Regions from separate parts of the Homo sapiens genome. Here regions 1, 2, 3 and 5 are each linked to region 4. Evidence: fine-mapped expression QTL. A gene starts in region 4. Each other region holds a variant in brackets. All regions are shown on one strand. Distances are from middle to middle. Region 1 overlaps NRROS (negative regulator of reactive oxygen species). Region 2 has its middle 30 kb from the start of FBXO45. Region 3 has its middle 24 kb from the start of CEP19. Region 4 holds the start of NRROS (negative regulator of reactive oxygen species). Region 5 overlaps FBXO45 (F-box protein 45).

Region 1 (5,103 bases), 24 kb after region 4:
TTCAAGATGTGATGCAGAGGCCAAGTCTGACGAATTGAAGTTTCAATTAAAATTTAATATGTTTCCATTCCTCATCGCCCACCCCACCCCCGCCCCCACCACCGCCCAAGTTCTTTTTCCATCATTATAATTCATCCTCATTATCTTGGTAAAATATTTATTAAGTGACTTTTTCAGAAATAAAAGGCAACGTGTCTCATAAATATTTTTTAAATTAAATGCAGCTTGTGTTTTTTTTTATTGTTCCTTGGTTTCCCTTGGATTATTTTGTAGTGTCCTCCCCTTGGTGACATCCATGGAGCCGAGGGTAGCAATTCAATGCAACCTACTGGAAAAAGAACTCCAAGAGCAGGTGCTAGAGATGGTGAGTCAGTGCCCTGGGGACTCAACAGGGACAAGGATTTCATAGCAGGACGACGACACAAGGATTTCATAGCAGGACGACGACAACAAAGCATTTCAAAGCACAGCTGGAGGGTCTGACATAAGATCATAAGATGAGGCCTCTCACCTGCTGCGTGACTGGCCACCGCCGTCAGAACGGTCCTGTGATCCTAGCACTTTGGGAGGCTGAGGCGGGTCACCTGAGGTCAGGAGTTCGAGACCAGCTTGGCGAACATGGTGAAACCCCGTCTCTACTAAAAATACAGAAATTAGCCGGGTGTGGTGGCGGGCGCCTGTAATCCCAGCTACTTGGGAGGCTGAGACAGGAGAATTGCTTGAACCCAGGAGGCGGAGGTTGCAGTGAACCGAGATCACACCACTGCACCCCAGCCTGGGCGATGGAGCAAGACCCCGTCTCAAAAAATAAACAAATAAATAAAATAATGGACCTCTAGCTGGGCCCTCTCCAGGTGCCCTGGCTTCATACCCGGAGTCTCTGGCAGACAGACATGACTCTTCCATGGAGAAACCAAGAGAATAATAACTGGCCCCGAGTTTATCCAGTCAGTAAGCCGACTGCCAGAGACAGTCCTCGTTCTGAAGGGAAGTAAAGAGGAATGCAGAAAGGAATGAATTCTGCTCACTTGTGAACCCTCCTAACTCTTCACAAAAAATTGCTTACAACTTCATAGCAGATGTTCAGTATCTGTATTCACTAGATTCTTAGCTTCCCTTCTCCCTCTGTTCAATGACTAACGAACAATGTCTGTGCTCCTCTCTGAGAGAAAAGATAACAAGGACACAGCCCCCGTCCTCTGGTAGTTTAGAATTTACACTGTCCTCAAAGTTTTTAATCCCTGCTTACTAAATCATAAAGGAATTAAACGCAATGGGGGAGGGATGGGGAGGGAGAGAGGCTAGAAATCCCACAAACTGATAGCTATTACCATGCAGACTAACTGTCAGCAGAAATATTTAGGCAAATCAAAGAGATAAAATCAGTGGTCTTACTCTGACACAGCAGAAACTTCCCTTGGATGCTCTACAGAGGTTTGAACAAGGCCATCTCAGGCCCCACATTCAGTAGCGTTAGCGGCAGGTCCTGTTAGGCTTTGCCATCTCAGGCCCCACATTCAGTAGCGTTAGCGGCAGGTCCTGTTGGGCTTTGCCCTTGCTATGACCCCACCGTTCCCTCCTGCACTGCGCCCAGCCTAGTGTCGTGGATGTCTCTCAGGTTGCCTTGAAGCCTTCCGGGCAAGTCCCATCAGCCAACGCAACATCAGACCAGACTCTCCTGATTTCCTCTCCCCATCAACAAAACCCTTCTCTGGGGTCCTGCTGTTTCCTAATGTGAACACTAGCTAATTAGACAAATGCATCTATCTGTGGCTGGTGCACTGACGGCTTCTCTTGAGTTAATGCGTCACCTCTGGTATCCATCAGTGTTCTTAGTCTCATGCAACTGAAGACGGTTCTGTCTGATTTAAGTAGCTTACGCATTTAGTAAGAGAATATTAGTAAGCTCTGGACTCT[C/T]GGGAAGGCTGAGGAACAGGCTTGGAAAATGGGCAGGAACAGAAGATGCTGTGTAGCAATTGGGACCAGCTGGTCTCGAACTCCTGACCTCAGCCCAAACCATGCCATGAGCAGTAACTGTGGGAGCATGGCTGCAGCCACCCCTGCCACCTTCTGCTGAAATAAATGCTCCCCAAATTCTGCTGCATCGCCAGCTCCTGACCGTGGTCATGTGCCCCTGCCCTGAGTACAAGAAGGACTGGCACGGCAATGCTGTACCCCTTGGCGAGGTGTCTATGGCAGAAGATAGGCTCCGTGTCCTCCAAATTCTTATGAGGGGGCAGAGTTCTTGAAACCTAAGAAAGGAAGTGAGACGTTGAGCAAACAAAATGAATGAAAAGTAAGTCCCGTATCCTTTTATGGCTGCATGTACATTTTATTTATTTATTTATTTATTTATTTATTTATTTATTTATTAGCCTGAGTCTCGCTTTGTTGCCCAGGCTGGAGTGCAGTGGCGTGATCTCTGCTCACTGCAACCTCTGCCTCCCAGGTTCAAGCGATTCTCCTGCCTCAGCCTCCTGAATAGCTGGGACTACAGGCGCCCGCCACCACACCCAGCTAATTTTTGTATTTTTAGTAGAGACACGGTTTCACCATGTTGGCCAGGCTGGTCTTGAACTCCTGGCCTCAGGGTGATCCGCCCACTGTGGCCTCCCAAAGTGTTGGGATTACAGGCGTGAGCCACCGCGCCCAGGCAGCGTGTACATTTTAGCAGGCAACTTCTGGAAGCAAATTCTTAGCACAAAGAAATGACTCAAATGATGGAAACTTCAGACAGAAACTCAGGGCAGTCGGGGAGATAGTTTGGGGTTCAGCAGGACTTTTGAAGCCCCTCAAGTCACACCATGTAGCTGACCACCCACTCTTTCTGTTCTTGGGGTCCAGCCCGGGAGGATGACAAATTGAGCCCCAGCCCTGCCTGTGACTGTGACTTTAGAAGGCTGTGGGCTTTCCTTCCTAGTGTTTTCCATCACAAGGATCCAAAGGTGATTTCCTGCCGGGTGCGGTGGCTCATGCCTATAATCCCAGCACTTTGGGAAGCTGAGGTGGGTGGATCACCTGAGGTCAGGAGTTCGAGACCCGCCTGGCCAATATGGTGAAACCCCATCTCTACTAAAAATACAAAAATTAGCTGGGCGTGGTGGCGTGTGCCTGTAGTCCCAGCTACTCGGGAGGCTGAGGCAGGAGAATCGCTTGAACCTGGGAGGCGGAGGTTGCAGTGAGCAGAGATGGCGCCACTGTAGTCCAGCCTGGTCGACAAGACAAAATTCCGTCTCAAAAAAAAAAGGATGATTTTCTAGGTTTCTCTCAGTATGCGGAAAGTTACATAGGGAAGGTGCTTTCTGCCTTCAGTGCTCAGCTATGGTTCCCCCAGCAAATTCTGTCCCCTTTCCCTGCTTCTCCCACTCCGACCTGGACCCATAGGAGAACCTACTGGCGAGGGAAGGACCCACAAAGCCTGTTACCAGAGTTCTTCGGTGGGGCCAGAATGGTGTCTGCCTAAGAGCTCCCATTCAGCCAGGTGGGGCACCACGTGGTTCTTCCTCAGTGGGTGGGCAGTAGGGGGCCATTTCCGGTTGCCACATGCCAGAATATTCACACAGGAGGATATTCAGAATCACAGATAAATCATGTCAGAGACTGGTCTGTGAACATGAGTAACAGTAACTTAGATTTTGGAAATCCAGTCATAAAACAAAAGCTGAAGGTTTTTCTGGAGGCATTTAAGTTAGGGATCAATTGATTTTTTTCCGTTCTTTCTTTTTTTGAGATGGAGTCTTGCTCTGTCACCCAGGCTGGAGTGCAATGGCGCAATCTCGGCTCACTGCAAACTCCGCCTCCCGGGTTCAAGCGATTCTCCTGCCTCAGCCTCCTGAGTAGCTGGGATGACAGGTGCCTGCCACCACGCCCAGCTAATTTTTGTATTTTTAGTAGAGATGGGGTTTCACCATGTTGGCCAGGCCGGCCTCGAACTCCTGACCTTGTGATCCGCCCGCCTCGGCCTCCCACAGTGCTGGGATGACAGGCTGAGCCACGGCGCCTGCTGATTTCTTTTTTTAAACGACCCCAGTTGCAAGCAATTGGACAAACTCTAATCCTTGGTTTGTATCACTGGTCATATCACTTTTTATTTATTTAATGTGCCAGATAACTTCCATTTGCCCCTCCAGATCTACTTCCCACTCTTTTCCACCCTGCCCCAGGAGGCTGGCCTCAATGGGCTCCCTTGCCCTTTGGCTTCCAGTGGTATTTGGCTAAGAAGGAGGTTTGGCAAATCACAGGGGAGGAAGAAAGTGAGGTCAGAGTATTTATTCTCCTGACTCCTCCCTGTAGATTTGTCTCAAACTGGCTGCACCTATCAACCAAACTCACACTCGTCTCAAGGCGGCTCTTTGCACACGAATCTCTGCCTTAGGTATCTAGGAACCACTCACTCCCCTGGCTCTCTTCTCTGGGCCTAGCATGGGTAACAGCTCTGCCTCACCAGCTCGTGTAATTGCATTATCCTTTGCGGTTTGCCCTCCCCTCTCCACCGCTTTGTGAATCGTCCCTTTGTAAATCCTCCTGACTTGTCCTTGTTTGAACGTGCCATCTGGTTCCTGCTGGGTCCCTGCATGACGCAGCTGGCTACTCATTTAGTAATCCTGAGCCCGAGAGATTCCAGCACTTGTGTCAGGGAGCCACAGAGTGCTAAGGATGCGCGGCCAGCGCTAGGAAAGCAAATCTCCCGAAGATGGAGTCCCCTGATTTCCATGGAGTCCATGCGTGGACATGAGGAAGAAGGTGGACATGAGGAAGATGGCACGCCTCAGTGTGTTACAAACATATTCATATTTTACCCAAATTAGAGTGGGAGAAGTTTCCAGCCTTGGAGACCTTCTTTAAAAGAGTGTGGGTGTTGCAATGACCAAAGCAAACAGATGATGGAGCTGGGGAAAAAAAAAGTGTTATTTAAAAAAATCCTTCTCGGCCGGGTGCAGTGGCTCATGCCTATAATCCCAGCACTCTGGAAGGCTGAAGCAGGCGGATCACCTGAGGTCAGGAGTTTGAGACCAGCCTGCCCAACATGGCGAAACCCCGTCTCCACTAAAAATACAAAAAATTACCCGGCGTGGTGGCACATGCCTGTAATCCCAGCTACTG
Region 2 (5,103 bases), 41 kb before region 4:
GCGCTGTCAGGGGCTGTGTCTGAGCAGGAGCTGGTTTGCTAAATCAAGGGCAAGAAGAGAAAGCTCAGGTCTTTTGGGTCTTGAAGAAACTGTACTTCTTACCTCGTCCTTCTCTTCTCTGTTTTAAGGGAGAGACTAAAGAATGGTGAGGTTTGAAACTCAGAGGAAAACCAGCTTGGTGATCTGTTTTTTGTTTAGCTGACACGAAATCATTCACACCCAGCAGCTCACTGCCTGCTTATTTTAAGCATGAAAAATGAGGGTAATAAGTTTCTCCCTCTCTTGTGGGAATTATGTTCATATCTTTCACTGGACTCCTTTCCTACACACCCAGAGCTTAATTTTGGTTACTTTTGGAATACTAAAATGAACTGAGGGTCCCAGCCTGGAAGGGAGTTTGGTGATGAGGTGAAATGAAGTATTTTAGGGCAAGGATGGCAACGGAATTCAAATCCTCTGCCGTGACACCCAAGTGAAATGCTCTGCTTCTCACAGAGTGACACTTAGAGCTGTGGGTTTTGAGACAGATAGAAAGGGATCTCTCTTGGTTTTTTGTTTGTTTTTTGAGATGGAGTTTCGCTGTTGTTGCCCGGGCTGGAGTGCGATGGCGCAATCTCGGCTCACTGCAACCTCTGCCTCCCAGGTTCAAGCGATTCTCCTGCCTCAGCCTCCCAAGTAGCTGGGATTACAGATGCCCGCCACCATGCCCAGCTAATTTTGTATTTTTAGTAGAAACAGGCTTTCTCCATGTTGGTCAGGCTGGTCTCAAACTCCCAACCTCAGGTGATCCACACGCCTTGGCTTCCCGAAATGCTGGGATTACAGGCGTGAGCCACTGCGCCTGGTTGAAAAGGATCTCTTGTAGGAAGATGGAACCCAGAGGGGCTTAAGAGGACCTACGCACCCGCAGGCCTCCTCTCCCTGCACAAAAACATAGGCGTCCCCTGATTTCATGACCAGTTGTCATGAAATCACACCCAAGTCCCTCACTTAGAAACCCCCACGATGAGTTAAACTATTCACTGGCCGGGCGTGGTGGCTCATGCCTGTAATCCCAACACTTTGGGAGGCTGAGACAGTTGGACTACCTGAGGTCAGGAGTTCGAAACCAGCCTGGCCAAGATGGCAAAACCCTGTCTCTACTAAAAATACAAAAATTAGCCGGGCATGGTGGTGGGCACCTGTAATCCCAGCTACTCAGGAGGCTGAGGAAGGAGAATCGCTTGAAGCTGGGAGGCGGAGGTTGCAGTGAGCCAAGATCGCACCACTGCACTCCAGCCCGGCCGACAGTGAGACTCAGTCTCAAAAAACAAAAACAAAAACAAAACAAAACAAAAAAACACCGTTGCCTGCAGCTTCCCTGCCCATAAAGAAACGCATGCTATAGTGAAGGAAAGTGGCACAGCCTTGTCTTCTATGCATCTGCCTTCCAAGACCTTATCAGAAGTGGCTGGTGCACAATTTATGATTGAGGTCTTCTTACCTCTTTTCCCATCATAATCATGACTAGCAGCAAGAATGGAACATGTAGAGCCCTAGTCTAGGCAATCAATATAGCACTCACATTCCTTTGACTCAGCCCCTCCTCCATGGAATATGCAGCGCGGGTACTGTTAGTGTGTCTGGAATTGGTGGGTTCTTGGTCTCACTGACTTCAAGACTGAAGCCGCGGACCCTCGCGGTGAGTGTTACAGCTCTTAAGGGCGCGCGTCTGGAGTTTGTTCCTTCTGATGTTCGGATGTGTTCGGAGTTTTTTCTTTCTGGTGGGCTGCAGACTTTCGCGGTGAGTGTTACAGCTCTTAAAGCGGCGCATCTGGAGTTGCTTGTTCCTCCCGCTGGGCTCGTGGTCTCACTGGCTTCAGGAGTGAAGCTGCAGACTTTTGTGGTGAGTGTTACAGCTCATAAAAAGCAGCGTGGACCCAGTGAGCAGCAGCAAGATTTATTGCAAAAAGCCAAAGAACAGAGCTTCCACACAATGGAAGGGGACCGGAACGGCTTGCCGCTGCTGGCTCGGGCAGCCTGCTTTTATTCTCTTATCTGGCCCCACCCACATCCTG[T/C]TGATTGGTAGAGCCTAGAGGCCTGTTTTGACAGGGCGCTGATTGGTGCGTTTACAATCCCTGAGCTAGATACAAAGGTTCTCCACGTCCCCATCAGATTAGTTAGATACGGAGTTTCCACACACAGGTTCTCCAAGGCCCCACCAGAGCAGCTAGATACAGAGTGTCGATTGGTGCACTCACAAACCCTGAGCTAGACACAGGGTGCTGATTGGTGTGTTTACAAACCTTGAGCTAGATACAGAGTGTGGATTGGTGTGTTTACAATCCCTGAGCTAGACATAAAGGTTCTCCACGTCCCCACCAGACTCAGGAGCCCAGCTGGCTTCGCCCAGTGGATCCCGCACTGGGGCTGCAGGTGGAGCTGCCTGCCAGTCCTGCGCGTGCGCCCGCACTCCTCAGCCCTTGGGTGGTCGATGGGACTGGGCATGGTGGAGCAGGGGGTGGCGCTCGTCGGGGAGGCCCGGGCCGCACAGGAGCCCACGGAGGGGGTGGGAAGCTCAGGCAGGGCGGGCTGCGGGTCCCGAGCCCTGCCGAGCGGGAAGGCAGCTAAGGCCCGGTGAGAAATCGAGCACATCGCTGGTGGGCTGGCACTGCTGGGGGACCCAGTACACCCTCCGCAGCCGCTGGCCCGGGTGCTAAGCCCCTCATTGCCCGGGGCCAGCAGGGCCCGCCAGCTGCTCCGAGTGCGGGGCCCGCCAAGCCCACGCCTACCCGGAATTCCAGCTGGCCCGCAAGCGCCGCACGCAGCCCCGGTTCCCGCTCGCGCCTCTCCCTCCACACCTCCCTGCAAGCTGAGGGAGCGGGCTCCGGTCTTGGCCAGCCCAGAAAGGGGCTCCCACAGTGCAGTGGGGGGCTGAAGGGCTCCTCAAGTGCCGCCAAAGTGGAAGCCCAGGCAGAGGCGGGCCGAGAGCAAGCGAGGGCTCTGAGGACTGCCAGCACGCTGTCACCTCTCATTAGGACTCTGCAGCGCGGGTACTGTTAGGACTCTGCAGCGCGGGTACTGTTAGGACTGGGTCCCTGCACTCCAGGTCTTCAGAGATGTTGTGCTTAATATTTCTGGGCACCTGCTATGTGTTTTATCTACATTACTTGATTTATTTATTAGAATATCTTGATGGTATTCACATTCGTGGAACACTGAGGCTCACAGACGATAAATAACTTGCTAAAGTCACACACCTTAAGTTTCAGAGTCTTGTTTCAGCCTAGATCTCTGACTCAAAACTTTGGTTACTTTCTCCTCAAGGGGGAGGCAGACGTGTCGCAGATAAACATCCAATAACAAGTAAGTGCTCTTGAAGAGATAAACATGAGTAGTGCTGGGGTGGCTGACTTGCCTGGAGAGTCAGTAGATACATTTTGACTGTTGTTTTATTTACCAGGACTGGAGAGGAAAATGGGAAGAACATATATTCTCTCTCTTCACAGCCAGCTCCTCTCTGCTCCTCTCCTCGCTTCTGTGAACAATTCCCTCAGCCTGTGTATGAATCATGATCACCATTCACTATAGAACCCTGACCTGTGTCCGGGTTGCCAGACATAATACAGGATGCCTGATGAAATTTCAGATCAATGAATAGTTTTTTAGTATACATACATACCCAATGTTGCATGAAATATAATGATACTAAAGAATTATTCGTGTTTAAAATTCAAATTTCACTGTGGGCACTGCATTTTTTCCCAATTTTCAAACTGTGGTACTGTACACATAATGTAAAATGTTTACCATCTTAACCAATTTCAAGTGTACAGTTAGTGGTACTAAATACATTCATGATGTGTGCAACCATCAGCACCATCCATCTCCAGAACTTTGTTTGTTTGCTTATTTGTTTAGTAGAGATGGGGTCTTGCTGTGTTGCCCAGGCTGGTCTCCTGCTCCGTGACTCAAGTGATCCTCTCGCCTCGGCCTCCCAAAGGCTGGGAATACAGGCGCAAGCCACCATGCCCGGCCTCTCGAGCTCTTTTATCTTGTAAAATTGAAACCTTATGTCTACTAAACAATAACTCTACATTCCCCCAACTCCCCAGTCCCCGGCAACCACCATGCTACTTTGTGTATCTGTGATTTTGACTCCTCTAAACACTGCAGATAAGTGGAATTACACAGTATTTGCCCTTTTGTGACTGGCTTATTTCACTTAGTGTAATATCCTCAAGGTTCATTCATATGTTGTAGGATGTGTCAGAATTTTTTTCCTCTGTAAGACTGAAGACTGTTCCATCGAGCCACGTTTTGCTTATCCATTCATTCGTTGATGGACTCTGGGTTGCTTCCACGCTGTAGCTGCTGTGAGGAACGCTGCTGTGAACACGGGTGTGCAAAGGTCTCTTTGAGGCTCTGCTTTCGGTTCTTGTGGGTCTATTCTCAGCAGTGGGATGCTGAATCATACAGCCATTCTCTGTTTTATTTTTCGAGGAACTGCCAGACTGTTTTCCAGGCTGGCTGCACATTTTACACTCCCACCAGCCGTGCACGAGGATTCCATTTCTCCACGTCCTCACCAACGCGTCTATCTGATGTTTTCGTTTTCCCAAATAGCCATCCTAAAGGGTGTGAGGTGAGGGCATTCTTTATTTGTATTTGCCAAATGTAGCGACCCTAAAGCCCAGCCAGAGACCTCTTGCCGGGCTCTGATGTCACACCTTGCCCATCTAACCCTTGCCTTTTCTGTGTCGCATCCTGGCCTGGACTCCTGGTCCTCTGGTCCTCACCCAGCCTCTCCTCATTTACTGCTGCCCATGCCTCAGTGTGAGACTGTGTCTGGGGCTCTCGTCACCTCTTCTTGCCTTGCTCCCTCTGAGAGCACCTCGCTGGCACCACACTGACAGGTTGGCACCATAGGCTGAGCCTGAATGTAGAAACTGGCAGAACATCAACTCAAAGGAAATGTCCCAAGAGGAGAAAATGTTGAGACAGCAAAAGTCTGTGGCCTAATCTCAGAGCACTCACAGTTATAGATCCCTGACACTTTGCAGGCCAGAAGAAGCTGAATTTTTAGTTATTTGATCCTTTCCCCAGTTAGGGTTCCAGCTTCCT
Region 3 (5,103 bases), 48 kb after region 4:
CTACCCTAGAGGAATGATAGTGTTTAGTATTTGTTTTCATTCTTATTTTCCTTCTCCTCTATATCGCATGGATTGTGGAGCGTGTCCATGTCTTCAGGTCATCAGCATGACTTTTAGGGGAGGTGACTACAGAGTCAAAGCCATGGGAGATGCGGAATTCAGCTGAAGATCACTTAAACATCCAGCACCGCTGTAGCACTAGTCATAGAAAGAATATGAAGAGAATTCAAGATTAAACAGATTGGCCAGGCGCGGTGGCTCAGGCCTGTAATCCCAGCACTTTGGGAGGCCGAGGCAGGCGGATCACCTGAGGTCAGGAGTTAGAAACCAGCCTGGCCAACATGGTGAAACCCATCTCTATTAAAAGTACAAAAAATTTAGCCGGGTGTGGTGGCACATGCCTGTAATCCCAGCTACTCGGGAGGCTGAGGCAGGAGAATCGCTTGAACCCGGGAGGCAGAGGTTGCAGTGAGCCGAGATTGTGCCACTGCACTCCAGCCTGGACGACAGATCAAGACTCTGTCTGGAAAAAAAAAAAAAAAAGATTGAGCAAAGCAGTCAATAGATTAATTGGATTTAATTAAGTGATGAAAGAATTGAGTAATGGAACTTCACCCATTCTAACCATGTGATAAAGTAGAAAAGGTTCAAAGATTTAGTAGGGGTTTAAAATGAGTTTAAGAGAATGGGATTACAATTCCAATCCCATTGGTAAGACAAATTTTATTTCTAAAAATTCATGTATTTCCCCCCTTTATACAACTGCAAATGCGAGTTTGGAGCTAGAGTGGGAGAGGAAAGCAAAGAATGAAGGGAAAGAAATAGGAGGAAGATTCTAGAAATGGGGGCAGCATGGGAGAAGTGGTGGGAGCAAAGTCCTGGCATATAGATGCCACAATCAAAACTTCTGCCCTGTTTCCTAGCTGCTTGGTGTCAGCACTGGGGCCATTCCCCCAGCCTGTGACCTTGGCATCCCCTATGTTGACCTGGGCTCTTCCTCTGTCCTTCCACCTGGATGTCCTTTAGTGGGTCCTGGCCAGGGTCCTATTGCTCCCTTTAACCTCTGGAGCTTTTGTCTGCTACATTTTCTTACACTGATGCTGACTCAGACCTAATGCTGGGTGAAGTTGTGATGTGGCTGAAGTGTCTGGGTGTAATTCAAGAATCCTCGAGGGAGAATCAGGAGTTTTGGGTTCCGGTTCCAACTTGGTAATTTACCAAGTCACAGCCTCCTGGAGCCTGGTTTTCCCTATCAATAAAATGAAGAAATCTGTCTTCTCTAGTTCATAAGTTGTCAAGATCAAATGTGTAAATACATAGGAAGTTCTTAGGAAAGGGAAGGCTTCTATCACTGTAAAGAAGTATCATTGATAACTAGTATATGATAGTCTGCTGCCGTCTGCCTTCCCCATATGTACCCTATCATGCTCTGAGTCCCTCCTTCCTGCCTTTTCCCCATCTCTTATCACAACCTGCTTTTTGTATGTGATTGCTATTTACACCTTGATAATATTAAATCAGAGATATACACAATTAAATTTGAGATAGTTACGCCTTGTCCAGAAATATTCACATATTAAGCTTGATCGCTATTTGGGTGGTAAAAAGTTAGTCCTTGTTCAAGAAATGTTAACCAACAGTTTGGGGTAGGAGGGAGAAGTGAGGCTTTCCTTGTGTTCTGAAATCACTATATTTCATGCCTGAATTAGCCTGTCTGAGCTGGAATTCAGAGTGAATCTTTGGATCCATGTTTTAAAGGGACAACTATAGAGACTCCCATTGCTTTTTCTATGCACATAGTTTTTGTGCGGTTTTTACTGGAATCTTATTACAGTTACAGTTACCATCCCATGGACCAACATGGTCCATCGAGGGCCTTGCAGTGAGAGGGTCAGTCCATAGATGCTGGAGCCACATGACGTGGGTTCAAATTTCAACTCTCCCACTTATTAGTGTGTGACCTTGGACAGGCTGCTTCACTGCTCCGGCCCTCAGTTTTCTAATTTGCAAAATGGGGGAGATTAATAATACCTATCTCCAGAGGTTTGTTGGGAGGATTAAATAATAGGCCTAAAACACCTAGAGCAGTGTCTGGCACTGAGTACACATTAGCTGGAATTTATTTCAATTGCATGTTTGAAAAAATTTAAACCATTCAGAAATTTAATTTTAAAAATAAAAAATGAAAAGTCACTTAAGCTCTCTATCTCCCACTTTAACCCCACTCCTCTTTCCACAGGCAAACTGTTAACAGTCACTTTGCACACATCATTCAAGAGTTTTGTTTTGTTTTTGTTTTTGTTTTGAGACTGAGTTTTGCTCTTGTTGCCCAGGCTGGAGTGCAATGGTGTGATCTCGGCTCACTGCAACCTCTGCCTCCCAGGCTCAAGCGATTCTCCTGCCTCAGCCTCCCGAGTAGCTGGGATTAAAGGCATGCGCCACCACGCCCGGCTAAATTTTGTATTTTTAGTAGAGATGGGGTTTCTACATGTTGGTTAGGCTGGTCTCAAACTCCTGCCCTCAGGTGATCCGCCCGCCTCGGCCTCCCAAAGTCCTGGGATCACAGGTGTGAGCCACTGCACCTGGCCTCATTCAAGAGTTTTTACTGATATATTTTTTAAATCAAAGAATTATAATATACTATTTGGCAACTTGTTTTCCTCACTTAACCATGTAGCTAGGAGTTATTTCCAGGTCACTATGCCCAGTGCTACCTTCTTCTGCCTAAGGGTTTCATAGTATGCCGCAGCATGGACACTGCGCAATTCACTTAACCAATGTCTTATTGATGGATATTTGGAGTGTTTCCAGTTTTCGATATTTGGAGTGTTTCCAGTTTTCCACGATCATATTCGCTTTTTGCACATTCTTTTCTCTTTATAATTCAGAACCATCAAGCTGAAGCCCAGCAGGGCTTCCTCATTTCATCATCATAGCTCATTTCCTATTGAGCAAAGCTTCTTCCTCGGGTCAGCTCTTGCCACACTTCTTTCTACAGAAACAA[G/C]AAGTGGAGTTATCTGTCCTGGGCTTCGGGAGTGAACACACCCATTCCCACGCTGCTGCTGCCCACGCTGCTTTGCCCACACAGCACCACTGTCCCTGGGGATCCTGAATAACAATCTGCTGAGCAAAATCAACATCCCTTTGGCTACAGCGAGGCTAATTGCACTTAATAGGTTGTAAGAGTTCTGGTACAGACAGGCTCCTTCCCATGATGTATTTCACCACCTCATTGAAGAGATGTGTGTTCCAGTGAGAGTCTGTTCCTCCGTGTCATCCCAACAAATGCTCCTATGTCCAGGAGCCATTGTCAGGAATGCTCGTTCCTCTCCCTTCTACACAGACAAATCTCCCTTTGAGGACACACTCAACTCCAACTCCTTTTGTGAAGCTTTCCCTGTTGCTCCAGCCTGCATGAATCCTTCCCTCCGCCGAATTTCTTCAGCAAGAATGCCTTCTAGGCCAGGCACGGTGGCTCATGCCTGTAATCCCAGCACTTTGGGAGGCCGAGGCGGGCAGATCACCTGAGGTCGGGAGTTCGAGACCAGCCTGACCAACATGGAGAAACCCTGTCTCTACTAAAATACAAAATTAGCTGGGTGTGGTGGTGTGTGCCTATAATCCTAGCTACTCAGGAGGCTGAGGCAGGAGAATCACTTGAACCCGGGAGGCGGAGGCGGAGGTTGTGGTGAGCTGAGATGGCGCCACTGCACTCCAGCCTGGGCAACAAGAGCGAAACTCCATCTGAAAAAAAAAAAAAAAAAAAAAAAAAGAATGCCTTCTAAGTGCATAGCACCTGTGTGAGGGTGAAACCCTGGCCCACAGAGCCAGTGGTCGTAGGATAGTTAAAATAGAAGGCCACAGTATATTGGGAGGCCAAGGCGGGCGGATCACGAGGTCAGGAGATCGAGACCATCCTGGCTAACATGGTGAAACCCCGTCTCTACTAAAAATACAAGAAATTAGCCGGGCGTGGTGGCGGGCGCCTGTAGTCCCAGCTACTCGGGAGGCTGAGGCAGGAGAATGGCGTGAACCTGGGAGGCGGGGCTTGCAGTGAGCAGAGATCGTGCCACTGCACTCCAGCCTGGGCGACAGAGCAAGACTCCGTCTCAAAAAAAAAAAAAAAAAGGCCATAGTATATCAGAATTCCATAGAAATAAGATTATTACAAAAAGCCTATAAGCAGAGAGACACTGGAATATACTGAAGCTAGTATGAGCAAAAGGGAATTGTGGGTTGGAACACCAATACCCACAGCAACAGTGAAGGAAAGCAAAAGCCTCGCACAGCGCTTCTCAAAGTGTGGTCTGGGGGCTTGTTAGAAATGCAATTTCTTGGCCAGGCGCAGTGGCTCACACCTGTAATCCCAGCACTTTGGGAGGCCAAGGCAGGCGGATCACCTGAGGTCAGGAGTTCAAGACCAGCCTGGCCAACACGGCAAAACCCTGTCCCTACTAAAAATATAAAAATTAGCCAGGCGTGGTGGCACACGTCTGTAATCCCAGCTACTCAGGAGGCTGAGACAGGATAATTGCTTAAACCTGGGAGGTGGGAGTTGCAGTGAGCTGAGATTGCGCCACTGCACTCCAGGCTGGGTGACAAGAGCGAGACTCTATCTCAAACAAATTAAAAAAAGAAAAAGGAAAATAAATGCAAATTCTTAGGCTCCACCCCAGACTTACTGAATCAGAAATTCTGGGGGTGGAACGCAGCAATCTGCGCTATCGTGAGTCCCACAGATGAGTCTGGTGCATGCTGAAGTCTAAGAACCACTAGCTTGAGTAGAGATTCAAAGTTTGGGTCTCTAGCACAGAAAGACTTTTGCAACAACGAGTCTCGGGAGGCGTAAAGCAAGCAGAGAGGACTGCAGCTGTTAAAAGTAGTCCTAAGAAGATTCTAGGTAGGAGAACTCAAGCGTGGGGAGCTGGGAAACCCCAGCTGGCAGGGAGGGGTCCTACCTGGCGAGCTGCCCCCCAAGGGCCTGCGCTGGTCAAGTGTCTCCCGAAGGGTCTGCCTGCGGGCAGGAGAAACACAGGTGTCCAGGACTAGTGTTCTGACTGATACGTGGCCCTAGGATTTCTCTCCTGGGACCACTTGGAGAGG
Region 4 (5,103 bases):
CTGCCTTTCTCAAAAGAAATTCTATAGAGAATCTCCCAATGTATAAAACATATCAAAGTAGAATTCTTGGGATGTGGAGGGAATGGGGTACCTGGATCCCACCTGCCAGTCTTTAGGCATTCATGAGGAACCCTTGAACCTGCTGAACCCTGTAAAAGGGCTTTAAGCAGAGAGTGAGATGACCCAATACACATTTTAGAAAGATGCCCGTGGCAGCTAGGTGGAGTTGACATTGGACAGGGATGAGATTAGGGGCAGGGAGCGAGTTTCAGGAGGCTATGAAAGTGGTCCAGACATGAGCTGATGAGGTCTAGACCCAGGGCAACAGCCTAAGGATGAAAAGCAGGTTGGATTCCAGAAACATTTCTGAGTTAGAATCAGCAGGAATTGGGGGTCAATTAGATATGAAGGATGAAGTCTGTGAGGGCTGGACTGCCTGGGCTGAAACATACCGTAAAGTGTGACAGCCATACAGGAGAGAAACTGCTGGGACAAAGGATAAGAGTTGAGTTTGGGGCCAGGCACAGTGGCTCATGCCTGTAATCCCAGGACTCTGAGACTGAGGTGGGCGGATCACCTGAGGTCAGGAGTTTGAGACCACCCTGGCCAACATGGTGAAATCCCATCTCTACTAAAAACACAAAAATTAGCTGGGCGTGGTGGTGGGCGCCTGTAATTCCAGCTACTTGGGAGGTTGAGGCAGGAGAATCACTTGAACCTGGGAGGCAGAGGTTGCAGTGAGCTGAGATTGCGCCACTGCTCCAGCCTGGGTGACAGAGCAAGACTGTCTCAAAAAAAAAGAGAGAGAGTTGAGTTTGGGATACATCATGTTATGGTGACTCTGGGACATGTAGCAGTTGATTGACCAGTAGACAGTTAAAAATGCAAGTCTGGATCTTCTCTCGTGGAAGAGAATGTTGGAGCTAGAAATTAAAATTGGGGAGTTACCAACTGATTGGTAGACACAAAAGACATGAAGTAGAGAATGTGCATACAAGAGAGAAAGAGGCCTGAATCAAGCACCTGGGTTTGCAACAATTTGATCTTTATTTAGCTTTTTCATTGGTGTGATTGTTATTACCATTATGAGATAATATTTTATTTTTAAAATTATTTTTATTTTTTTAAAGACGGAGTCACACTCTATCACACAGGCTGAAGTGCAATGGCGTGATCTTGGCTCACTGCAGCCTCAACCTCCCTGTGCTCAGGTGATCCTCCCACCTCAGCCTCCCAAATAGCTGGGACTACAGGTGCGTGCCACCAGGTCTGGCTAAGTTTTAAATTTTTTGTACATATGGAGTCTCAGTATGTTGCCCAGGCTGGTCTTGCACTCAGGCGGTCCACCTGCCTTGGTCTGCCAAAATGCTAGGATTACAAGCCTGAGCCTCTGTGCCCGGCCATGAGTGAATATTGTAGAAAGCAGAGACAATGTGCCAGATGTTTGGAGTGAAAAGGACTTGGCTCCTGTTCTCTTAGGATGGACAATGCTACACACAATCCCAAATCACAGGCTATAAGAGAGGTGACCCAATCCTGCAGGACAGTTCAACGTTTCAGATTTGAAGGGGAGTGAGAGAGATCAGAACTGGAGGCCCCTTGTCTGAGCCCCCGACTATGGTGGTCCACGTCACTCCACACGCAGCAGGCACTGTAAATATTTCACCTTCTCTAGACGACAGTAGTTCCTCGAGAACAGGAGCGCTGGGGTAATGCATATGAAGCTCTTAGCACAGTGTCTGGCGCTGCTTCAATGATGGCTATATGATCAATTATTCTTACTCCTTTGAATTCTTGGCAAGAGCTGGCAGGGAACTTTGTACACATCAGGTACAAAAAAACCCATCCGCGCAGTCTAAGATCAAGAAGCTCTTGGCACTCTCTGACAGTCCTCGACAAAGCAATTCCCCTTCTTTCTAACACAGGGTCCGTAAAGGAGATGATCCACAAGGACCGGCTGAGTGGATAAGAAGACAGACTGGCTGAGCGGCTGACCCTGCCAGACGACAGGCTGTGCCTCTTTACCACGGTGCTGCCGTTCCCAAAGTCGGCCTCAGCTTGGTCCTTGGCTGGAAGCTCGTAGCAAAGTTTCTGGGTCAGCAGACCTCATAGGCAAGGGGCCCCTAGCTGGCCGCCCCCAGCCCTGCCAAGGCACCAACGCAAGAAAGCCGGGGGAGCCTCGGTCGCATTGCTGGAAGATCGTCTAAACATCCCCGCTGCTCGGCCGCTAGGCCGGCAGGTGTTCGGGCCCCGCTCCCCCGGCCCGCCCCACCCCCGCGCCCGCGCCGCGCTTCCCTCTAAGAGGCCGGGTCTGAGTGAGCCTGTGCTGAGTCGCCGAGCAGCCCGCTCTCCATGTGACTTCAGTTTCCGTCCGTTCCTTCCGCTGGTGCTAAAATAATCTGATGCCCCACAGCAAGGAGGTAGCCCAGCCCCGCGTTCGGCTGCTCTCGAGGAGGCCGGAGCCCCCGGAGACGATGCGCCCCGCGCAGCCGCCTGCGCCTGCGGGAGCCGTGAGTATTTCCCGCGTGGGGGCGTCCCCGGGGCACAGCCGGGGCCCTTCTCCAGGTGGGCGAGCTCGAGCGAGGTTGGGTGGTAGGAGGTCAGCGTCCGCGGCCCGCAGCTCAGGGCTCACGAGGAAGCTGTGGCTTGCTGCGTCCAAGCGCCGCCGCTTTTGTGCTGGGCGTGGGGGCTGCAGCTCTGGGTGGAGGTGGAAATACCTCCCTCCAGGAGCACTTAGAGCTGAGAAAGGTGGTGCGACGTAGTGGAAACCACGAGGGCTTCAGATTCAGACGTGGGTTTGAGTCCTGGCTCTGCAGGGAGCATGTGAGCAGACAGTTAAGGTTTCTGAGCCTCAGTTTTCTCATCTGCAAAATGGGAACAGAGATGCTCCCTCCCTGGGCTGGGCGACTGGATATGATGAGACCGCTCTGTGCACACTCAGCATGCTGAGCACTGGGCTCTCCTTTCCTGTCCCACAACGTGGATTGAGAACCACTATCTCATAGATGAAGACACTAAGACTGGTTAACAGCAACACCTATCACAGATGCCGTCCACGTGCCAGGCCTGTCCAAGGCCCTGGGGATACAGCTGTGAAAATGTGCAAAGCCCCTTCTCCCACAGAACGTTTGTCCTTGGGAGATTCACTGGGGCTCTGTGACTTGGATCTTAGCCTAGACTTAGATCCATGGCTTATCAGAGGGAGACTAACAGGAGGGCGACGAAGACTCGGACGCTCTTCCGTAGCCCTCGTGGCCCCTGCATGTGGGCCGGCTTCTGAAGGGGTCAGCGTACTTCCCCACGTACCCAGGAGCTAGACGGAAAGAAGTAAGGAGCCACTGGTGTGGCTTTGTGCTGCCTCTGAGAGAAGGTGGACACGTGCCAGTTGGTGGCTGCGACTGGAGGAGGCCGGATCGGGGGTCCTAGGAATGGAGCCTCTCCGGACAGGGCTGGTCGGGGCTGCTGTGCTTCCCTAGGGGCTGAGGGGACCCCACCGGAGGCTTCTTCATGATGGGCACAGCCCGTTAGGAGTCTGGGTGCTAGAAACATTCAGCGTCTGTGGCCCTCCATGCTTTCCTGTGTGCTCCTCACCTGCCGGCTGTGACACACAGACTGTTCTGTGGATGCTGAGGGTTTGCTGGGCTTTACATTTACAATACGTATTTATTCTCCTCACACACCTCTTAGGTTTGTGTGTGTGTGCCCGAGAGTCCCTAAAGGAGATTATAGAATCATGGGCCCAGGAAAAAACCTTAACTCCTGCCTTTAGGTTAAAAAAACAAAACAAAACAAAACAAAACAAAACAAACTCAGCTTCACAAAGAAGGCACTTTTTAAAAATATATATATTTATTTATTTATTTTTAGAGACAGGCTCTTGCTCTGTTGCCCAGACTGGAGTTCTGTGGCACGATCACAGATCACTGCAGCCTCAAACTCTTGGGCTCAAATAATGCTCCTGCTTCAGTCACCTGAGGAGCTAGGACAACAGGTGCACACCACCATGCCAGCTAATTTTTAAAATTTTTTTGTAGACACAGGATCTTGCTGTGTTGCCCAGGCTGGTCTCAAACTCCTGGGCTCAAGCAATCCTCCTGCCTTGGCCTCCCAAAGTGCTGGGAGTGTGGGCGTGAGTCACCGCCCCCAGCTTTCATGTAATGAGTGCCCTCATGGGAACTTCATGAAAACACATTCTCTTATAGTTTTTAAATTCATCATCCAAGAGTTCCTGCTCTTTGATGATGAGACATACCTGGTAGACTCCAAAACAGAGAGCAGACGCCTAGTATCTTTGTTCTGGGGTGTGCATTAAGAGTACATTGACCTGTCTGTCTCCAGTCTTGACTCTTTTGGAAGAGAGATGCTAGTACTGATGACAACCTGCATTCTGGCTGCGGTGTGCGTCCACACTGCACAGTGTGCACCAGACTCTCGTATGGACAATGACTGTCCCTCACATCAGGCGCAGATCCATTTTAGAGCCTCAGAAGTCAGGAGAGGGTGGACTTTCAACCACGACTGAAAACACTGTCTTTCTTAGGACATGCTGTGTGTATGACACACTTACAGATGTCTGTGCTCACTGATGCTTGTTGATGTGTCATCGCACATCAGTGACAAACATTTGTCATGTTTTTGCCTTTGGTGGAACTTCTTTATTATACTCACTTTCCTCCCAAACCATTTTTCTCAACTTCATCATGAAGCAAATGTCATGTGGTCATTCTGTGATGGGGCTCAGGGCTAGGTTAGGTGATGATTTCTGAAAGCTCAGAGACGTGAAGGAAAAAGGACATCAGTGCTTGGATCTTAGCTCTTATAAGCCTCACGTGCAACAATAAACCCGAGTTCAAGAATCAGATTCTTAGATAGATTGGTTTGGTAGCAAATGACAAAAAACCAACGTAAATATGCTTCGGCAAAAAAGAAAAAAAAAAAGGATTTATTGTTTCAAATAACTGAAAAGTGTATGGGCAATAGTTTCAGGCATGGCTGAGTCCAGATGCTCAAATGGCATTGCCAGGAATCCATCTGTCTCCTTTCCTCAGCTTTGCCTTCCTCTCTGTGGGCCTCTTTACCAGGCAAGTCCCGGAGCTGGTGGCA
Region 5 (5,103 bases), 49 kb before region 4:
GGAACAGCCCACACCCAGCCCAAATGCTGTCCTCAAAAACATTCCTCAGTTTCTCTAGCTGAATGTAATCTCTCCTTGAAATTTCCCTAGTTTTATATATCTATAGTTGACTCATGCTGTATTTATTTATACCTTGTTTAAAATTATTTATTGATTATTTATTGGTGTCATATCGCCCCTAAACTGGGACAGGATCTCTAACGGACTCATCTTTGTGCCACAACATGTAAGCCCAATAGGCAGGTGCTCACATATTTGCTGAAGGAACAGAGAAAGAACTGCGGAGAAAGACAAAAGCTCCTCTGAAGTTTTAGACTATAGAAGCAAAAATTATAGTAGCAAAAGATGAATGAGAAATTCTGTTCTAGTCCCAGTGAAGCAGGAAGGAAAGGGTTGCAAACTTGAGGCTGGTAAGGAAGAAATAATTACTGTGAATGCATTTAGCCACTCCCCTCTACTCAAAAATACTGGTAAACTCTGATTTTTATATTTGTTTAGAATTTAAATTAGAATTCTGTATCTTTATTTTTTGGAATTCTGTTGTTTTGCCTTAGTTTCTTAATAAAAAGTTAAACATTAACCACCTGTGATTGCTTACATTTAAAGACATTTTTTACACATTGGTTAGAAAGAAAAATTGGGGTGCCTTAATAGCCAGAGGTGGTGATGGAATTTACCTATAAATTCCATGGCTTTAATAATAGAATCCACATTCCCCATGTTTAGAATGGAAAGTGGACAGAGAACAGTAATTCACTAGGGTCTTATTTCCCAATTGCCTCTACCGCCCCCCACCCCACCCTCCTGCTGACATTTGTTTGATAATGCAGTTGTTTGCCAAGAATTATGAGAGACAGGCATGCTATTCCTGAACTGGCTGAATACACGGCTCCTGTGATCCAAAAGCTTAAAAGAGAATCAGTTGATGATGTTGCTAAACAAGTTGGCTGATATGTTAAAGTTCAAAGCATTTTAATTTTTTTTTTTTTTTTTTTTTTTTTTTTTTTTTTTTTTTTTTTTTTGAGACAAAGTCTTGCTCTGTCACCCAGGCTGGAGAGCAGTTGATGTGCTCTCGGCTCATTGCAACCCCTGCCTCAGGTGATCCGTGTGCCTCGGCCTCCCAAAGTGCTGGGATTACAGGCATGAGCCACCGTGCCCAGCCCAAAGCATTTAAATTTTATAAAAGAAAAATAGGTGTAAATGTTCTGTATTTGCCGCTTTGTTTAGTGGAAAGAGACGCCAGAGACAGCTTTACCAGTCTGTTGTCCTGATTTCTTTTTTGGATCCTCCCTCGAACTGTTTGCTTCTTATTTAATGTGTTCACTAAAATACTGTTGAGAGCAACATGTTCTCTAGTCTTCAGAATAATAGTTTGCTGAAAGAAGTAGCCCTTTAAGATTTAAGATTGTTATTCAGCTTTTGTATGTAGGATTTCATGATGAGTGGCTCAAGAAGTAGGAATCATTTGGGGAGTTTCCTTAGGTCACCCTGTTGATAGTGTTTAATTTCTGTTTAAGGCAGGAAAACATTAAGAAAAGATTAGAGAAGTCAAGTCCTGTCTATGATATGATATGATACTTGTACACCATGTTATATTTCTGCCCCCTTTCCTGTATAAATAAAATGGGGATAAAATCAAGTAATGGTTTTGAGGTCATAGCTCCCTTAAGAAAGTCTCCCTGAAATAATGTATTAAAATTCTAGCGTCTCAAGTTAGATTCATTAGAGGCATATTGTAGTGGGAACAGACCAGATATCTTTGTTTATTTTAATATAGCTAACTTGTTCATATTCCCAACCCATGTTTAAAGAGCATATGATTGATCTGTGCCCCCTTGTTGGTCATCTTCACCTTGGAAGGAAAGGAGGCTTAAGGTTGCAATGAGAGTTGTTGATGACATCTCTAACCCCTCAGTAGGCCAAAGAGTGATGTAGTTCATGATCCAATTGCCCAGAA[T/C]AGCACGGACAGATGGTTACTTTGCTAAAAGACATGTTGGTAGCAAAGACACTGCTCTGAGCAGAGACTGGTGGCAAAGCCCAGCGCAATCCACCCTTCTGAGCACAGCCTACAGGAACTTCAGTGCCGACGGAGTCACGGAGGCCACTCTAGGTTTTACATGGCCATAGTTGAGCTTCTGAAATTTTGAAGGATCTCCCTGCCCACCCAGCTACTAGTCATCCACTTGGTAATGTAGACAGAATGAAAAAGGCAGGAAAGATCATTCATCAAATTATTTTCTAACATCCGTTATCTAGCAGGCTTTTACCAGGTACTAGAGATGGAAAGATGAGAAGGAAAAATCGAAGTTGCTGACAAGCTTCTGTGAAAGCAAATGTGGAAACAGACTACTGTGAAACTGAGGTAACTGCTTTAACGAAATTACAGGTGAGGTCCAGGGTGGCATAGGAGAGGGAATAGTTAACCTGGGGCGATGTTTAAGCTGAGCTTAGAAGATAGTAGGTGGGAGCTAATGAGGATAAATCCACTGTTCCAGGCAAGTGGGATAGGACGTGCTATGATACGGAGGCACAGATAGGTCCGCTATGTCTGGAACCATGCTGGACAAGTGGTGGGGGAGGGCATGGAACAGGGAAATTGCGTCTGGATTATAATTGCCATACCAAATAGTTTGGGTTTTGTCTATTTTTTCATGGGGGAAGCCATTCAAAAGTTTTCAGCAGGGGCATGATTAGCTACAAAAACCAATATCTGAAAGGTGGGAGTCAGGAGGTCTAGGCAGAAAATGATGAGGACCTAAACTAAGGTGACTAAAGATGGAGGAGGGATGTATTTAAGAGAATGCAGGAACACATGTGGACACCATTTGTATGTCAAGAGTGAGAAGCTTTTTGGTGCAGACATTTATAAGGTACTGCTTATTAAGAAAGGGTATTGAAAAGGAGGAATAGATTGGGAGGTGAGGGGCCGAGCGCAGTGGCTCACATCTGTCATCCCAGCACTTTGGGAGGCTGAGGTGGGCAGATCACCTGAGGCCAGGAGTTCGAGACCAGCCTGGCCAACGTGGTGAAACCCCGCCTCTACTAAAAATACAAAAATTAGTCGGTTGTGGTGGCAGGTGCCTGTAATCCCAGCTACTCGGGAGGCTGAGGCAGGAGAATGGCGGGAACCCAGGAGGCGGAGCTTGCAGTGAGCCGAGATCGCGCCATTGCACTCCAGCCTGGGTGACAGAGCGAGACTCTGTCTCAAAAAAAAAGATTGGGGGGTGAGGGTAACGAGTGCGGTTTTGAACATGTTAAATCGGAGGTGGAAATACAGAAAAGGCAGTTGGAACTAGTGAGCCTGGAGTTAAGGAGATCGGCAGCCAGCTGGATGAGAGAGCTGCTGGTGTGCCGCGTTCCTCACTGGCCGTACGGGCTCCACAGCCCAGCGGGTAGAGCGAGGGAGGCGGGCCTGCAATACCCCCAAAGGACAACCAACTGCCTTCTAAACCGTGACTCTGCCAACTAAAGGCTGCGGGGGTGTTTTGTTGTTTCGGGATTTTTCTTTTCCTTACATACCCCACACCTCTGAATAACAATCCTAGCAGTTCAATTTTTTTTTTTTTTCTTGGAGACAGAGTCTCGCTCTGTCGCCCAGGCTGGAGTGCGGTGGTGTGATCTCGGCTCACTGCAACCTCCGCCTCCCGGGTTCCAGCCATTCTCCTGCCTCAGCCTCCCGAGTAGCTGGGATTACAGGCGCCCGCCACCACGCCCGGCTAATTTTTGTATTTTTAGGAGAGATGGAGTTTCACCGTGTTAGCCAGGATGGTCTTGATCTCTTGACCTCGTGATCTGCCCGCCTCGGCCTCCCAAAGTGCTGGGATTACAGGCGTGAGCCACCGCGCCCAGCCTCAGTTCAAAATTTTTAGGTGCCTCTTTTTAATTTTGGGAGAAGCTCAGCAATGTTCTATCATTTTGGTCTTGAGGCAAGACCACTGGATCAACAGCACAGGACTCATGCGGTCTAAGTCCTGGGGGCGCTGCTGGTCACGACGCGATTCCGGAGCAGATGTCTTCCTTCCTGGGGCTGTTGCTGAGGCTGACCTAGCTCAATGCTTCTCATTTTGGGATGCCCACTAGAATCACCTGGGGAGTTTTTTATTTCTTTAAATTAGCTTTATTGAGATAATAACTGACATCAAACAAGCTATACCTATTTACCAGTGCACAATTTGATAAGCTTTGATGTATGTATATATCCATCACAATCAAGATAGCCTATATGTGGGAAGCTTTTAAAAGATAAGATGCAGCCGGGCGCGGTGGCTCACGCCTGTAATCCCAGCACTTTGGGAGGCCGAGGCAGGCGGATCACCTGAGGTCGGGAGTTCGAGACCAGCCTGACCAGCATGGAGAAACCCCGTCTCTACTAAAAATACAAAAATTAGCCGGGTGTGGTGGCGCGTGCCTGTTATCCCAGCTACTCGGGAGACTGAGGCAGGAGAATCATTTGAACTCGGGAGGGGGAGGTTGCAGTGAGCTGAGATCCAGCCATTGCACTCCAGCCTGGGCAACAAGAGCAAAACTCCTTCTCAAATAAATAAATAAGATGCCCTAGCAAATTAAATTCCATGGAGTAGTAGAGTGGAGTTTTGTTTGTTTGTTTTTGTTGTTGGTTTTTTTTGAGACAGAGTCTCACTCTCTCCCAGGCTGGAGTGCAGTGGCCCGATCTCGGCTCACTGCAAGCTCCGCCTCCCGAGTTCACGCCATTCTCCTGCCTCAGCCTCCCAAGTAGCTGGGACTACAGGCGCCCGCCACCACGCCCAGCTAATTTTTTGCATTTTTAATAGAGACGGGGTTTCACCGTGTTAACCAGGATGGTCTCAATCTCCTCATCTCGTGATCCACCCCCCTCGGCCTCCCAAAGTGCTGGGATTACAGGTGTGAGCCAACGCACCCAGCCTTTTGTTTGTTTTTAAGTCTCCAGGTACTTCTCCCCTGAACTAGGAGACCACCATTCAGGAATGACATTTGAGCAGCCTCAAGTGGAGGCAAAAATCTCTGGTTTATTTTATGTTACGATTTGATTATTTTATTTTATTTTATTTATTTTATTTTTTGAGACGGAGTCTCACTCTGTTGCCTAGGCTGGAATACAGTGGC

Evidence for each region. PIP is the estimated chance that this variant, and not a neighbour inherited with it, causes the effect.
Region 1: its variant is fine-mapped to the expression of NRROS in whole blood (TOPMed, PIP above 0.99).
Region 2: its variant is fine-mapped to the expression of NRROS in whole blood (INTERVAL, PIP above 0.99).
Region 3: its variant is fine-mapped to the expression of NRROS in whole blood (TOPMed, PIP above 0.99). The same link has a PIP of 0.9 or more in blood mononuclear cells and monocytes.
Region 5: its variant is fine-mapped to the expression of NRROS in cerebellar hemisphere (GTEx, PIP above 0.99). The same link has a PIP of 0.9 or more in cerebellum.

Annotation. Positions count from the first base shown.
Region 1 is chr3:196,661,786-196,666,888 of GRCh38, forward strand. NRROS (negative regulator of reactive oxygen species) reads left to right here. Exons shown (of 3, transcript NM_198565.3): 3 at 1-219. Among named protein-coding and RNA genes, the nearest start is that of NRROS, 25 kb to the left of the region's middle. RefSeq lists enhancers at 3,642-4,304, 4,305-4,967, 4,968-5,103 and a silencer at 4,353-4,647. The variant C/T (reference allele first, on the strand shown) is at 1,918.
Region 2 is chr3:196,596,588-196,601,690 of GRCh38, forward strand. No RefSeq gene overlaps it. Among named protein-coding and RNA genes, the nearest start is that of FBXO45, 30 kb to the left of the region's middle. The variant T/C (reference allele first, on the strand shown) is at 2,058.
Region 3 is chr3:196,685,480-196,690,582 of GRCh38, forward strand. No RefSeq gene overlaps it. Among named protein-coding and RNA genes, the nearest start is that of CEP19, 24 kb to the right of the region's middle. The variant G/C (reference allele first, on the strand shown) is at 3,005.
Region 4 is chr3:196,637,366-196,642,468 of GRCh38, forward strand. It overlaps NRROS (negative regulator of reactive oxygen species), which reads left to right and starts at 2,329. Exons shown (of 3, transcript NM_198565.3): 1 at 2,329-2,510. RefSeq lists silencers at 1,966-2,395, 2,416-2,515 and enhancers at 2,966-3,085, 4,254-4,603, 4,624-4,683.
Region 5 is chr3:196,588,480-196,593,582 of GRCh38, forward strand. It overlaps FBXO45 (F-box protein 45), which reads left to right. Exons shown (of 3, transcript NM_001105573.2): 3 at 1-580. Among named protein-coding and RNA genes, the nearest start is that of FBXO45, 22 kb to the left of the region's middle. The variant T/C (reference allele first, on the strand shown) is at 1,958.